Linked DNA regions of Homo sapiens: region 2 is linked to region 1. The links come from fine-mapping of genetic effects on gene expression. Tissue or cell type: lymphoblastoid cells. Region 1 holds a variant in brackets; the other region holds the start of a gene. All regions are shown on one strand. Distances are between the middles of the regions.

Region 1 (8,106 bases):
CAGTGGCATGGCCCTGACAAAGTAGAGTATATTTCCCTAACTCTGCCTTCCTCAGGCTTCAAGACCATTAAGAGGAATAACACTGGACACTTAATACACAGCTTTTGTATGTGTTAGGCCCTCTTCTAAGCACTGTATTAGCACTAAGCACTAAGACCCTCTTCTATTCACAGATACTAATTCATTCACTACTCCTGACAATCCTATTATATTATTATCTTTTTTTAATAGGCAAGCAAATCAAGACACATAGGAGTCTTGATAAGGGCAAGTGGGTAACTTACACAGGGTTACCCAGCTAGTTGGTCAAAAGCTGGGATTTGAGCCCAGGAAGTATGGTTCAAGGGTCTCTGCTCCTCTTTGTTGTATTTTAATGTTTTATTTCTCTTTTTTTAACTTTTAAGTTTAGGGGTGCAAGTGCAGGTTTGTCACACAGGTAAACTTGTGTCATGGGGGTTTGTTGTACAGATTATTTCATCACCCAGGTATTAAGCCTAGTACCCATTAGTTCTTTTTCCTGATCCTCTCCCTCTTCTCATCCCCACCCTCTGATGGGCCCCAGTGTGTGTTGTTCCTCTCTGTGTGTCCATGTGTTCTCATGGTTTAGCTCCCACTTATAAGTGAAAACATCCAGTATTTGGTTTTCTGTTCCTGCATTAGTATGCTAAAGATAATGGCCTCCATCTCCATCCATGTTCCTTCAAAGAACACGAACTCATTCTTTTTCACGGCTGCATGGTAGTCCACAGTGTACTACGTTTTCTTTACCCAGCCTATCATTGATGAGCATTTAGGTGGAATGTATTCTTTGCTATTATGAACACGTCTATATACATAAACTAGAAAACTTTGGGGTCTCTGCTCTAATCACCCAAAAGAGGAAGCTTTGAAATAGCTGAACAGACAAGGTTGACAAGCATGTGAAACCCACACAGCTAATTGGTGGCGACGGAAGTGGGACCACTGGCGTCAGAGGGTGGAGGCAGACAAACAGATCTCAGGGGTTCCTAATGTAGGCCCTTCCCCAAATGGAAGTCCCAATCTCTGGCAGCACTTTCTTTCATTCTGGGTGAGAGAATGGCAGATGTAGAATGGCGTCTGAAATATGAGCAATATCCTTTGTGTAAATACAGCATCAGAGAGGGATTAGAGGTAGCTCTTAGCCAAACATGAAAGGCATAAAGGGGCTACACGTTTCCTTAAACCAGGTCTTGATATTTTCTTTACATATTGTTTCTGAAGCAGACTTAATGATTGTTTGTTCTCTGGTGAGTTGTTTCAGATTACAAAGTTGAGGCTTTCCCTAGAATTGTAGACATCCCAGGGCTAGGACAATATTTCCATGGCCGTCTGATCTAGACCCTGCCCATTACTCCACTGCTAACAAACACATGCAATTTCCTATAACAGAATAGGAGGAATGCCCATTAGAAATGATGAGTGAGGTAGCCTGTGCACAAAAAGGTACTGACGGCCCTCTGCTACAAGTGACTAGGTGAAGGGAGCAGGAGTCATATGCAAACACAGTGATAGGTGCAATGATACTAAGCACTGAATTAAACATTGAGTGATTTTTTTGATGGATCTTATTGATGGTTCCCCATTGAGTAAATGTTTAGAATGTTTAGACATTATAGCTAAGATCTTTATTTATTTATTTTTGAGACAGACTCTCATTCTGTTGGCCAGGCTGGAGTAGTGACACAATCTCAGCTCAGTGCAAGCTGTGTCTCCCAGGCTCAAGCAATTCTCGTGCCTCAGCCTCCCAAGTAGCTGGGATTACAGGTGCCTGCCACCATTCCTGGCTAATTTTTGTATTTTTAGTAGAGATGGAGTTTCACCATGTTGGCCAGACTGATCTCAAACTCCTGACCTCAGGTGATCCACCTGCCTCTGCTTCCCAAAGTGCTGGGATGACAGGCATGAGCCACTGCGCTCGTCTTATACCTAAGCTCTTGATCTTTGGTATCCTATGCTTTTAATTCATTAGCCCCAAGTCTTGGAAAGAGACTTCTCAAACATCCATCCCAATAGAAGATCAGGATTATAGTCAAGTAGCCAACAGTGCAAAGGCAGCTGGCCTAAGTTGGGACCCTTCTCATAATAAAGAACTCATGGCTTCCAAGCCACATCTAAAATGATTGTGTTCCATCAGCCTGTACTACATGTGCTCCTGCCTTCAAGCCTTATCGAAAACAACTAGAGGCTCTGCAACTAGAAATACACCTCTCACTCCCTACCGAAATAGACCCAACTTTTGTTAAAAAGCTTTCATCTTATCCAGCCTTATCTGATCAAAGTAGGGGATGCTCTTATATATTCTCCAAGTCAAAATGTAGATATCCTTGACCCAAGTGTCATCGGATACTTTCCATGAAGGAAGACTTTCATGGAAACTATATTCTTAAATTTCAGATTGTACTATTTCCCTTTCAGCTTTATCAATAATAGAAACCATGGAAAGGGGCCTGAGAGATCAAACTTTAGTTTATAGATGAGGAGAGGAATCACAAGGAAAAGAGAACATCATCCTAGAATTATCCACCAAACTGTTGACTGAGCTGCTCCAGGTTCTCCTCCCAGGTCTCTTTCTGCCCCATTCTTCTCAACTTTCATGTGGCACTGAAGGGAACACTGAATAGCCATGAAGCTCATGAAGAAGCAGAGGCTGTCCCAGTCATTTTCCCCAATCCCCTACCTTCCCCCTTCAACCCCACAGACCCCTTGTCTGAACCTGCCCCCAGTGGAAGGCAGGACCATGGGTTCTCACTCATTTCCATGTACTCCGGAGTCAGTCCTGTGTATGGTTCCAAGCTGTAGTCTAGGTCCCACTGCTCTGGATGTTTCGAATGGGCAGAGTCAGTTTCTCCAGCTTCGGTCTCATCTTTCAGCTTTCGAAATAGTTTCTTTAGCTTCCTGGAAAAGAAATGGATTAAGTTACAAAAAGCCTCTGGAGAACAGGGTTGGTTTTGCAGACAGAAAAAAGAAAAAGAACACAAAAGTTTTGACACTAAAGCCATCTCTGATCCAAAAACAAGTAGAGATAGAGAGACACTAAAGAGACTACTTTTCTCCTAAAGGCAACCTGAGGAAGTCCTTTATAAAGATCGTGCAGACTCCCTCCACAAAGGATGAGGTTTCTTCAAACCCCAAAATACTTTTGAATTCTTCCTGCTGTCTGACAAGCAACAAGAGAGTTGGCCCTTCCTGCCAATGCTGAGACGGCACCAGTCCTATTGTCCAACAGGTGATCTATCCACCCTCTTCATGGGGGAACACAGGTCTGTTCTCCTCCTAGGTGAAACATTTTTCAGGTCTCAATAACATTAATAGCATCATCTTTCCATTAAAACCAAGCTAAACATTGCCCACCACTACTATGGACTGAATGATGTCTGCTGAAATTCATTTGTTGAAGCTCTAATCCCCAATGTGACTGTATTGGGAGATATGACTTTTAGGAGGTAATTTAGATTAAATAAGGTCAAAAAGGTGGGGTCCTAATTCAATAGGATTGGTGGCTTTATGAGTAGAGGAAGAGAGAAAGGGATATCTCAAGACCATCTGAGGACACAGAGAAAAGGCAGCTACCTGTAAGAAGAGCCCTCATCAGAAATTCAACCCTTTTC[G/A]ACTTTGATCTTGAAACTTTCAGCCTCTAGAACTATGAGAAAATAAATTTCTGTCAGTTAAGCCTATGGCATTTTGTTACAGCAGCCTGAGCAGACTAAGACAACTACATTCAGGACTTTTTTGGTGTAGAATGATAATAATGGCCCAATTTCTCAGGGTTGAAATAAGAATTAAGTGAAACAATGTTTATACAGTCCTTAGCACAATATCTGGACACAGTAAGCATTGAATAGATGATACCTGTTATTATTTTTAATACCGAATGCTAAAATACACCTTAGGGTGGAGTTATTTCATACTTCCCATTGATGCACAATGTACAGGGAATGGAATTGCAGTTTTTGCAATTACTTTTTAATGGCAAAAACTGCAATTACTTTAAGCAGCAACCTAATAGTTGGGAGACAGTAAAATGGTAAGAATCAAAGACTTGAAGTGTTTAAACGGGATTTTGAAGTCCATGCTTCATCTGGATGTAGGAACCTCCCCATGTCCCCCAACATTCTTCACCCAAGACCACCCAACCCCTGTGTAGATATTTCCAGAGGAGCACTTCTGGTATGATTAGGCATCCCATCCTTGTTTGAAAGTGCCTCTAACAGCTAATGAAAATCTAATAGTTCAAAATAATGTTTTGATCAGTTTCTGGTCTAATATTCCTATTTCCTATCAAGAGGATGTAGTATAGTGGATAAAAGTCTCATCTTTGGTGCCAGAAATTGTATAAAACCAGATTTCACAAATCACCAACTATATGTCCATGGGCAAGTTATTACAACTCTATAAGCTTTAGTTTTCTTATCTTTAAAATGGAGAAATAAATATTAACTTGCCCACAGGGTGAGTTAAAAGACATAATCTATACAGCATGCTTCATTTAGGGCTTGATACATGTTAAGAGCATGTACCAAGATACATGCTCTGATAGACATTTATCAAGATAAATAAAGATAGACAAATATATCATTGTTCCTATTATCATCTTTATCACAGAAGGATTTAAAGAGTGAGCTGAAATTCTTTAGAATTTCATAAGAAAAATTTCATAGTAAAAAATTTCTAAGAAAAAAGTAAGCAATAATTCTGTGATAATAAAAAATTGAAAAAAAACTAGATGGAGCCTACAGATTCTGAAGCTAAATATGTGAGCTGGTTGTGATCCTGTCTGTGAGTCAGAACAGAAGGAGAAGATGCAGGAAAAATCAAAGAGAGAGAGAAGAAAAGAAGAAAGGAAAGTGAGGGAAGTCTAGAACCAGAATTCAAAGTGAGACTTCTCCTCCATGAACAGTAATCAGACGACGTGTTCAAATCTTTAGTAAAAAATTAGTGGTTTTGATTATACATAGAAAATTGAATATAAACATATATTTATCCACTTCTGAAATGCCACTAAAATACCAATGAATGAATTTTAAAAAGTATAAAACCACAAATTAATGAAAATAGTCATGAATATAGTAGTGTGTGAGGAATGTTGATGAATATCTTGGAAGACGGACAGTGTACGAGGGAGTCAGCAAAGCTGTGTGACTGGTATCAACTGTTCACAGTGGAAGATGGTAGAGAGAAACAAGCCAACTCATGCTGTAAATCTCAGAAAGGCTCAGGAGTTGGAGGCACCAGGTATCCCCAAGGCAGGGGGTGGTGACTGGTCAAAGCTCTGCTTAAGGAACAGTAGACGCCAATGGCTCTGTACGCATGTTGCCTAGGTGACTAGCACTTCCCAATACCAACAGGGGCAAGAAGTTTATTCTGAAGAGAAAAATGAGCCAGGAAAAATCTAGATCTGAAATGAATTCAATAAAATGACAGAAAGATTAAAATCAATACTATCTCTCGGAAAAAAAGTAGAACAGACATAGAAATGGACAATAGGAAAGAAAACATTAAAAAATTAATTGATCTAGGAACTCTTTTTTTTTTTGAGACAAGAGTCTTGCTGCATAGCCCAGGATGGGGTGCAGTGGTGTGATTTCGGCTCACTTCAACCTCTGTCTCCCAGGCTCAAGCTATCATCCCACCTCAGCCTCCCAAGTAGCTAGGACTACAGGCATGCACCACCAGGCCCAGCTAATATTTTTTGTATTTTTAGTAAAGACAGGGTTTCACCATATTGCCCATGCTGGTCTTAAACTCCTGGGCTCAGATGATCCACCCACTTAGGCCTCCCAAAGTACAAGGATTACAAGCACGAACCACCACACCCGGCCTGAAACTCCAACACTTAATCAGAAAGAGAAGACAGAGACAATGGTGGGGAAGAAAGTGCAAAAGAAATAAAAGAAAATGTCCCAGAGGTGAAGGACATGCATTTTCTGATTGGAAGGACCCACTCAGCATAATGGTGAAAAAAAAGCCTCCAGCAAAACATATCGTCATGAGATTTCAGAACTTTAGGAATAATGGAAAGGATTCTAAAAGCTTCCAGATCCAGAGAAACAAACATAGATCCTCTACAAATAATTGGGAATCAAAAATAGGTTACAATTCTCCAGATCAGCCCTTGACACTAGAAGACTCTGCAGAAATGTATTTACATTCAGAAGGCAAATAATTTTCAGCATAGACTCCTATACCCAGCCAAAGTATAGACGAAAGTCAAAGACAGACTAAAGACACTTTTAAGTATGCAAGGTTTCAAAAAAATGAACTTTTTATGCATGCATCCATTCTCATGAAGCTCCTGGAGGATGAATTTCACCAACCAAGGATATAAAGCAAGGAAGAAAACATACAGAATCCAGCAAACAGAAACCCCACAAAAGAAAGAAGGTATTGAAGCAACTCAGCTTGATAGCTCTATAGAAGGTTTAGCAAATGAGCAGTTCTGGTTTGCCCGGGAGAACAGAGGATTCCTAGAAATCATCTCCAGGAAAAAAAAATGTGACTAATAAGACATGTGATGTGTTTGATGAAATAATCTCACTGGCAATGGGGACATTTAAACAAAAGTGACCAATAACGACCAATAAAACAAGAGTGACCAATATAAGAGTGTTATAAAGGGAGAAGTTTAGTGATTATGAGAACATAAAAGTCCTAACCTGGCCTAAGGCAGCGAAGTTCTCTTTGAGGAAGAGATGTGTAAACTAACTTAATTTACTAAATAAATAATTTACTCTTACTATTTAAGACTAAATAATGAAAGATGGTAGAAGAAGAAAGAGAAAGGTGGAGAGAGTGTGAGGGGCAAAGAGGTTATTCTAGGCAGGGAGAGTTATTTATGCAACAGCCTAAGGCAAATGTGAAAATGGCTCATAGAAAGGACTGAAGGGAATTCAAAATGCTTGCAGCATAGAGTACAATCAAGAAAATGATGAGGCCGGGCGCAGTGGCTCACGCCTGTAATTCCAGCACTTTGGGAAGCCGAGGCGGGCAGATCACGAGGTCAGGAGATCAAGACCATCCTGGCTAACACGGTGAAACCCCGCCTCTACTAAAAATACAAAAAATTAGCAGGGCACGGTGGTGGGCGCCTGTAGTCCCAGCTACTCGGGAGGCTGAGGCAGGAGAATGGCATGAACCCGGGAGGCGGAGGTTGCAGTGAGCTGAGATAGCGCCACTGCAGTCCGTCCTGGGTGAAAGAGCGAGATTCCGTCTCAAAAAAAAAAAAAAAAAAAAAGAAAATGATGAAAGGTAAGTCTTGAAAGGTAGTGTAGGCTCATGGCATCAAAGACCTTGTACACCATATTATGCAGTGGTTCAGGCGAGAGATTATGGTAGCAGAGTCTGGGGTGATAGCAACGGACATGAAGGGAAGTAGATATATTTGAGACATGCATAAGAGGTAGAATTAAAAAGTGGATGGTGGATCGTACACAGAAGGGAAGGACAATGAGGAATCAGCGATGATTCTCATGGTCTTAGGGCATGTGTGTGGTTGGTGGTGCCGATGGCTACGATAGAGAATACAACGTAAGAGGCAGTTTTGATGAGGATGAGGAGGAGGAGGAGGAGGAGTTGTTCTTGCCATGTCTAAGTGGGGAAACCCACGAGACAACTAAGTAGAGATGTCCAGTAGGCAACTGCATATCTGTGCCTAGAGCCCTGGAACGATCTGGGACTGATGGAGATCTGAGAATCATCGTGGAAAGAGCGGCGGAAGCCCTAGGAATGAGCAATGCCAACTATGGATAGAGCGTGCGTCAGAAAAGTTATGGGATGGGATAGAGGGAAAGGAGCCTTCAAAGGACAAAGAAGGAGAGTCATGGGAACAGAAGGCAACTGTAAGACTGTGTGGCAAAGGCAAGGGAAGACACAGGGGCTACGGGAGGGGCTTTGTGATCAAAGTCCCATCCAGTGTGGGTAGGTCAAAACAAATGCAGGGGAAAATATCCACAAATAGTCCTGTGAATTTATCATTCCCAGATTTCCTCCTGGATATCCCAGTGACCATTAAAAAAAATAATAATAAAGGAAGTCCCTCCAGAGCAGAATTTAACAGGAATCCTGGAAGTTGTATAACATACAGATGGG
Region 2 (8,106 bases), 950 kb before region 1:
GGTGGGAGACAGCGACAGATCATCAGGCACTAGATTCTCATAAGGAGTGCACAACGTACACTTTCCACAATAGGGTTCAAGCTCCTATGAGAATCTAATGCCACCACTGATCTGACAGGAGGTGGAGCTCAGCTTTGCTCACTTGCTCACCATTTACCTGCTGTGTGGCCAGGTTCTAAAAGACCATGGACTGGTACCGGTCCATGGCCTGAGGGTTGGGGACCTCTGCTTTAGAGTGTTTAATATAGGTGGGGGAATACGGGAAGGGGACATTTTGCCAATGGATTCCACTTAAAGCAGCAGAGTAAGTATTATGTATTAACAAATCTAGAGGACGGCAGAGGAGAATGAGAAATAAAAGAATTGAGGGTCTAAATTTTATGCATATCCCATGGAATCACTTCATTTTGTCAGATCCAGCCAGGACTCTTTTTATTTATAAGCATCTTGCCTTCTGTAAAAAAATTATTTTTAGGATATTTTGCCTAAACTGACCATCTCTGGGTTATAATTTGTCTTAGATCTTCAGAGATACAATAACCCTATTTTATCATTTGCAATGCCTGACCTGAGAAACTGTAGTGGGAAAAATCACACCAAGAGGCATTTGGTTAGCTACTCTTTCTATGCTTTATTACTACATTCTCTGAAAATGTTACCTCAGCTACTCTGTAATTAATGATTAAATATAGGACTAGTATATAGTTTCCATGGAGCAAAAAGAAATTCCAAGCATGGCCACGAGATAATGATGAAAATTGCAACAGATTCAAAAGCGGCTGGTTTATCACAGGGTTCCTTCAAAAAAGTTATTTATCGCTGGGCACAGTGGCTCACGTCTGTAATGCCAGCACTTTGGGAGGCTGAGGCAGGCGGATCACTAGAGGTCAGGAGTTCAGGACCAGCCTGGCCAACATGGCAGAACCCTGTCTCTACTAAAAATACAAAAAATTAGCCAGGCATGGTGGTACACGCTTGTAATGCCAGCTACTCGGGAGACTGAGGCAGGAGAATTGCTTGAACCTGGGAGGCGGAAGTTGCAGTGAGCAGAGATAGCACCATTGCACTCCAGCCTGGGTGACAGAGTGAGACTTGAAAAAAAAAAAAGTTATTTATCCATTGATGATCTTTTATATTGTCTCAAGAGCTTTTGTATTCTTTTCACAGAAAGTGCACCTACTAGTCAAATTATATTTGTCAAAATATCTCAGTTTCTTTTTTCTTTTTTTTGAGACAGAGTCTCAACTCTCGCCCAGGCTGGAGTACAGTGGCACGATCTCGGCTCACTGCAACCTCCGCTTCCCAGGTTCAAGTGATTCTTGTGCCTCAGTCTCCCGAGTAACTGGGATTACAGGTGCACACCACCACACACGGCTAATTTTTGTATTTTTAGTAGAGGCTGGGTTTCACTATGTTGGCCAAGCTGGTCTCGAACTCCTGACCTCAAGTGATCCGCCTGCCTCGACCTCCCAAAGTGCTGGGATTACAGGCATGAGCCACCGCACCTGGCCTCTTCGTCTTTGAAATAATGGGGCTTGCTGAGCTCCTAAAATCTCTTCCAGCTCTAACATTCTATGATTTTGATACTTCAGTGGTATTTGAATAGTACTGCATGGACCTACATATAGCACTTTACGGGTGACAAAGCATCTTTGCATCCATTACGCCACCCGATTCTCATAATAACCTTTTGAGGTACCAGGGTAGGTTTTATTTACCCTGTTAGACAAGTGTAGAAACTTGTCCAGGTCACAGCTAACGAATGACAAAACTGGGGATGGGATCTAGTATTCTAGGTGTTAAAAATCGGTGTTCTTTCAGTTGGGCACAGTGACTCATGCCTGTAATCCCAGCACTTTTGGAGGCCAAGGTGAGAGGAGGTCTTGAGCCCAGGAATTTGAGACAAGCCTGGGCAATACAGTAAGACCCCATCTCTGAAAAAAAAAAAAGTCAGTGTTCTTTTAATTACACCATGCAACCTTGAAACTAGAACTGAGAACATGAGGCAGTGTTTAACTTAGAGATTTTAAATTATATAATTGGCAGTGTTATACAGGAGTAAGCAGGTTGCTGATGACAGTCAGGATCTGTTGATCCGAACAAGGAAAGTATGTTAGTATCCATATTGGTCCCAAAATCAAGTATTAGCAAATTGTGTTAAGTGAACATAGGATAAGGCCAAGAAATATGACAGTGTAGCGTTACTACTAAGCTTCTCCGATGAAATTCAAGGTTTTTTTCTCTCTTCCAATTCAATTTGTTAGGCGACACTTCAGTAAACAGTAGGGGCAAGATAGAGTGGAAACAGCCAAGATTTCAAGCCTAGTAATAAGCAACTTCTACATCCCTACTCATCACAGGCCTTTTTGTCTATCCCAGAAACACATACTTTTCCTGAAAAAACAAAGCACTGGAAGGATTACCAAGTCTAGAAAGAACCCGCCCTCCCCAAACTAGGTGGTTTTCTGATAAGCCTAAGGTATGTTTCACAGGATCACTGGTTGCCATCTCCTACCCAGCAATCTGGAGAGGTTGACCAGAATAAAGTATTTTAAAATCCAAGCGCTTAGTCTAACCTGGAATTTCCTCAGTTTCTAGATGGCTCTTTGTAGAACAATGCAGATTCTCAAAGGTGACCACAGTTAAAGAAAAAATTACAAGCCATTGCGCTAGAGAGAGCCATCTGCAGTTTCTCCTTAGACAGATGTTCAGATGGCACACATGGCCACTAAATTTGCATAATATTTCAGGAAGTTCACAGATTTCCCGAAGCCCACTCATGAATCACACTTCTGGTTAAGAACTCCTAGATTCATATGCTAGTTGGTGATAAGTGCTTTGGTATATAAACTTAAACCAAAAATTGGTGGAATAATTACCACCTTGGATAGGATGGTCAGAGAAGTTTTATCCGAAGAGGTCACTTTTGAGCAGAGACTTGAGCTGGTGCAGACACCTGAGTGTGCATTCCAGGAAACGCGAACAGCAGGCGCAAGGGTCCCTATGAGAGAATGTGCTTGGCGGGCTCGACGCACATTTATTTACTTGGGACACACCCTATTTTGGTTTCTCTTCTCCACTTTTCCCCTCGTTCTTGTCCCCCCTTTTCTCTCTCCTGGGCCCTGGATCTCCTGAGCGCGGAGGGCTACGCCTCCTTCTTCCTCCGGACTCACCAGGGCTGCCAGCTTAGCTTACATTTTCAGGGAACAGGAAACTGAGAGTCAGGAAAGGTGAGCTCTTCTACCTCGGGTCTTGCCATTTTGCATGTCCTGAGTCAGTCACTGGTTAACTCTGAACTTCAGGTTCCTCGGCAATTAGAGATTATAAATAGCCTATACAGCCTATTCCAGATCTGAGATTCCAACAGCCAAAGTCTTTTCACTTCCTTTCTTCCCCCTCTCCTTCACTTTCCCAGCTTTCTTCTTAACCAACAATCTACCCGAAACCGTCGTTTCTTGGTTAGCGCTTGCGCAGACAGGCGAGAAAGGTAAGTTTTGACCCAGCTTAGCAGCCGTAGTCAGCCGGGAGTGCTGTCGTGGGGGATTGTGGGAAAAGATGGCGGCTGCCGCACAATCCCGGGTTGTCCGGGTCCTGTCAATGTCACGTAAGTGTTACCGGGAACGGCGGCCCCTGGTCGGGATTCCGAGACGGGGATTTAAGGTTTTGGAAGTGGCACCGTGCTGCAGCGGTCACGCCAACTTCCTAGGCACACTCTGGTTTCTCTAGGTTTGGAGCTGCCTCAGTCTGGTTTCTCCTTTCGCTTTCCGCTTCCCCGGCTCACATATTCAATTGTGCACCACCTTGGGAGGGGACAAAAGATCTTAAGCAGCTGTAAGCGAAGAGGAGAATGCGGGGGACACGTTAGGGATCGAGAGAATCAGAATTCTGATATGGTTGTAAGGGTTTAGGGTTATGAGAAATATTTGTATGGGGCGGGGGGAGAAATGTGTAAGGGAGGGAAAAAAGGCTAGTGGCGAGAGGTTTTCTTAGATTGATTTTATGACCTTGTGCAAACCCTTAATGGGTCTCAATTCATATGAGCACAATGGAAATGATAATATTACAATACCAGGGAGTCTCTGATAAGATTAAATGAGCTAATATTTGTAAAAGCATCCTTTTACCCAAAAGCGTCTCTACGGATGTAGAATGTGTTCGGCAAAGTGCGTTGGGGTCTGGGGGAGAGAGTGATGTTTGAGGAGAGAAGAATCAGGAGCTTGGTGGAAAGGAAAGTGAAGAATGAAGGCTATGTTAGAATTTGTTAGCATTATTTAGTTTCTCTTCTGTTCTGATTGGATCTGCTCCCACTCCTCAAACTGAAAACATACATTTGTCCTTCCACTCACTAAAAAGCAAGGAAATTAGAAATACGGTTACACTTCATCATTGTCCTTTCACCCTCTACTCTTCCACAAACATATTCCAATCAAACCCCCAAAGTTGTATTTTTCTTAGTGTATTTTAGTCGTTACAGAATATCATTTGCTTTCAAAATTGGCTCATGTCAGAATCACTCGTAAAGCTTTATAAAAATTAGAAATGAGGACTGAGTGTAGAGCTATTGAGTCAGAATTTGTGAGATTAGCTCCTTGCACCTTAAATTTTTAAAAGCACCACAGATAGGCTTGATGTTCAGCCTGAGGCAAGAATTAGGAGTGTTTAGAGGATCCTTTTTTTTTTGTTTTCCATCTTGGGTAGAACTCCTGCATACCACTGGGAAGGTGGTGGTGCACATCACTTATAGTGGATGGTTTTGTAGTCACAATGTCTTTGCAAAGACATTTGCTGGTTCTTGTTAAACTATTACAATTGTATGACGTAATGTAGATTGTGAATGGTAATCACTATTTATTGAGTACCTGCTATCTGCAATCTCCAGTTCTAGGTATTTTTATTAATTTTCCTCTTTTAACTTACTTTCCTCTGACTGACACCATAGCTTGTGTTCTTAACCACTCTGCGTTATTGTCTGGTAAAGTAAGTTTTTGAGTAAATTCTGTAGAGGCAAGTCTAGTATGTAACATAATCCACACACTATAGGACAGAACTGTGTAAGACAACTATATATAGTTAAGTGTGGCAAGACTATTAAGTATCACAGGAAATCATAAAAGGGAAAGATTAGTATCATTTGAGGTACTGAGGGATGATTGGAAGACCAGTGGAGAATTGTAGTGCTCCCACTGGTCTCTTTAGGGCTGTTATGATCTGGAAAGTCCTCTGGCAAAGACAAGTGGGTGAGAATGGAGTCATGAGGTATTCAAGAGGCAGTGAAATGACTACCTGAATATCTGGGATAGTGGAAAAGGAGGTTGAATGTGTTAGATGGGATCAGACAATGGAGACCTTTGAAAGCCAAGCAGAGTTTAGATCGGTAGTCTCCAAAGGGAGTTGTGCAAGAGGACCTAATAAGTTGTGGAAATATAAATTAGAACTCCTAAAAATTGCTTTCTATAGTAATAATAGCTAACACTTATGTAGTTTAAACTGTATGCCACACACTATTCTAAGTAATGTATGATTTATAATGTGTATATCATATTGGTACTACATAGAACGTGCATATAATTTTTTAAATAAATACTTAAAAAAATTAATGCAGTGTGCAAGCAAATATGTCTGGACTATTGGTTTGGGTATTGCAGTAGGAAACTAATGTAGGTTTTTAAGCAGAGAAATATAATGAATATATAATTAATAAAGAATATCATTCTTCTAATAGTACTCATAATAAATGGAAGAAAGTGGAGAGGCTGGAACCAAAGAGAGTAATAATTTATATTTATTGAGCACCTAGTATTTGCAAGGCACTGTGACAGATGCTTGCCCATATGTTATTCTCATTAACCCTTTAAACTGTGAGCTTCATGAAGCCAGGGTTTTGTATTTTACTGTGATAGTCACAGTTTCTAGAATAATTCTTGGCCCATAATTATTAAAAAAAAACAATAGCCATGTGAGGTTAGTGTGACATTACCTTCTGAGAAATTTCAAAGTAATAAAAGCAACTATTATTCATAGAATGCTTAATGTGCTCTAGGTAATGTGCTACGTGGTTTATGTATGTTTAATCCTCTTAACAGTCCTTTGAGGTATTAATTCCTCAACTCAAGTAATTCTTCCCAGTTCATTGACTCTGCCATCTTTTGCCTGTCTTATCCTATGTCCTCATTTCCTTACTCTTCACTCTTATCATTCCCTTTTATGCATCCTCAACTCCCCAGCCCAACTCCCATTGTCGTAAAAAACATTGACCCTGATTAAACAAAACTTTCCACGTAATTTGCTGCCTGCCACTGAGCAATGGAGAACGGGGCTAGGGAAAACTTCAGACTAACTGGCCTTATTTTAAATTCATGAATACAAATCTCAAGTAGATTTTCAGTGCTACATTTTTCTAGGAAATTTGGTTTCCTTGTCTCCATAATCATTACTTAACATAGCGAGTTTCCTAAAACCTCTAACATGTGCTTTTGTCTCATTCTCAGCTTTACAGAGAAATCAAAGGAATCAGATGAGAACAGTCATTTTCCCACCATAAACTCTAATAGTTGATATGTGATAATTCTTTGCCTTTTCTCTTGTTACAGTGGGTGAGCTCCTTCTGTTCCAATCTGTGGCCAGTTCCTTCACTTTGCATTCAATCTTATCCTCTCTCAACTATTCATTCCCTTTCCTGAATCAGTAATTTTCTACCTCTACCATGGAAATCATGTCATTTCCATCAGCACATAAATGTTAACTCATATTTAAAACAAACAAACAAACCTATTCCTGTCCTTGTTTTCTCTAGTTCCATTTCTCCTTTTTCAGAAGGATTGTGTATACTCCTCATCTACTTCCTTGCCTCACAGCCTCTCTTGTTTGCTCCAGTCTGGCTTTCAGTCCCACTAATCCAATAAAATTGCTCTTATTTATGCCACCTACAGCCACATCCTCCAGCTTCTGTGGTCCTCTGTCCTCTTCCTACTTCACTTTCAGCATTTGGTAAAGTTAACCATTCTCTCCTTGAAACAGTTTCTTATTTTGGGTTTTTAGATTCTGTTTCCTTCTGAGTTTTTCTCCTACCTCATGGGACTGCTTTTTAATCTCCTTTACTAGTGCTTTGGGCTAGTCACTAACCTTATCCATAAAGTGGTGATAAAGATAGCATTAAAAAAGATAATACCTATGCAGCACTTAGAATAATGCTGGACACCTGCCAAGAGCTCTGTAAAGGTAGCTGTTAATATGATGTTATTATTTTGTTATTATGATGTGTGGTCCATGATGTTTACTTTTAATTTCTGTCACTATCAGTGAGCTAGGCTATTTCTCCAATTCAATACTTTTGGATAGGGAAGAACAATGACCTTTGGGCAGAATGCCACCTGAAAGTCATCCCTAGAAACAAACACAGATTTTCTAAAGAAAGTCCTGTTTGTGTCTTTCACCTCTCCCAAGTGTACAAAGCACGAATGCTAAGCTCCGAAGTTTGTTGATTGGAGCAGAAGTGCGTTAGCACTTTAAACCTTTTTGTTTCTACTTACATGAAAGTTGAGCAGCTAACTCTAAAATTCTATTCTAAGGAGTTAGCAATAACTTGAAAACTGGAATGTATCCAAAAGAGATTCTCATTCCTGCCATATGAAGAATATTTGACAGGACAGGGAATGTTTAACCTGGAGAAGAAAATATTTAGTGGGGCTATAATTGCTACACTTAATTGTAGAAGAGGGATTAGACTTGTTCTTTGTCATTCTGGAGGAACACAGGGATAAAAACTTCTGGGAAGCAGTCACTGATTCCCCTTGTGGTAGAACTTTCTTTCTGTTAGAATGGCTCAAAGCAGAATGGGCAGCTACAGGAAGTAGTGAGTTTCCCAACTCCACAGGTGTTCAGGCAAAAGCCAGATGATTTCTTTGCACACATGCTGTAGAGAAGATGTAAGCATTGGTACATGAACTTTGAGGGTTCATTCTAGTACCAAGAACCTCAGTCAATGAAAAAGAAATGGTGGAATGTTTGACAAGTCTCTTGCTGTTAAACTTTCTAAAAGTCAGAATATCTTTTCTCAAGCACTTCACTCCTTTTATCATTATTTGTGATGTTCTTCAGTGGTTTTAT

Evidence for each region. PIP is the estimated chance that this variant, and not a neighbour inherited with it, causes the effect.
Region 2: AKAP3 starts here. The variant in region 1 is fine-mapped to the expression of AKAP3 in lymphoblastoid cells (GTEx, PIP above 0.99).

Annotation. Positions count from the first base shown.
Region 1 is chr12:5,596,714-5,604,819 of GRCh38, forward strand. ANO2 (anoctamin 2) reads right to left here. Exons shown (of 25, transcript NM_001364791.2): 20 at 2,771-2,916. Among named protein-coding and RNA genes, the nearest start is that of NTF3, 170 kb to the left of the region's middle. The variant G/A (reference allele first, on the strand shown) is at 3,630.
Region 2 is chr12:4,645,572-4,653,677 of GRCh38, forward strand. It overlaps AKAP3 (A-kinase anchoring protein 3), which reads right to left and starts at 3,480. Exons shown (of 6, transcript NM_001278309.2): 1 at 3,174-3,480. It overlaps NDUFA9 (NADH:ubiquinone oxidoreductase subunit A9), which reads left to right and starts at 3,543. Exons shown (of 11, transcript NM_005002.5): 1 at 3,543-3,604. The coding sequence starts at 3,556. RefSeq lists enhancers at 2,905-2,954, 3,235-3,444, 3,313-3,968.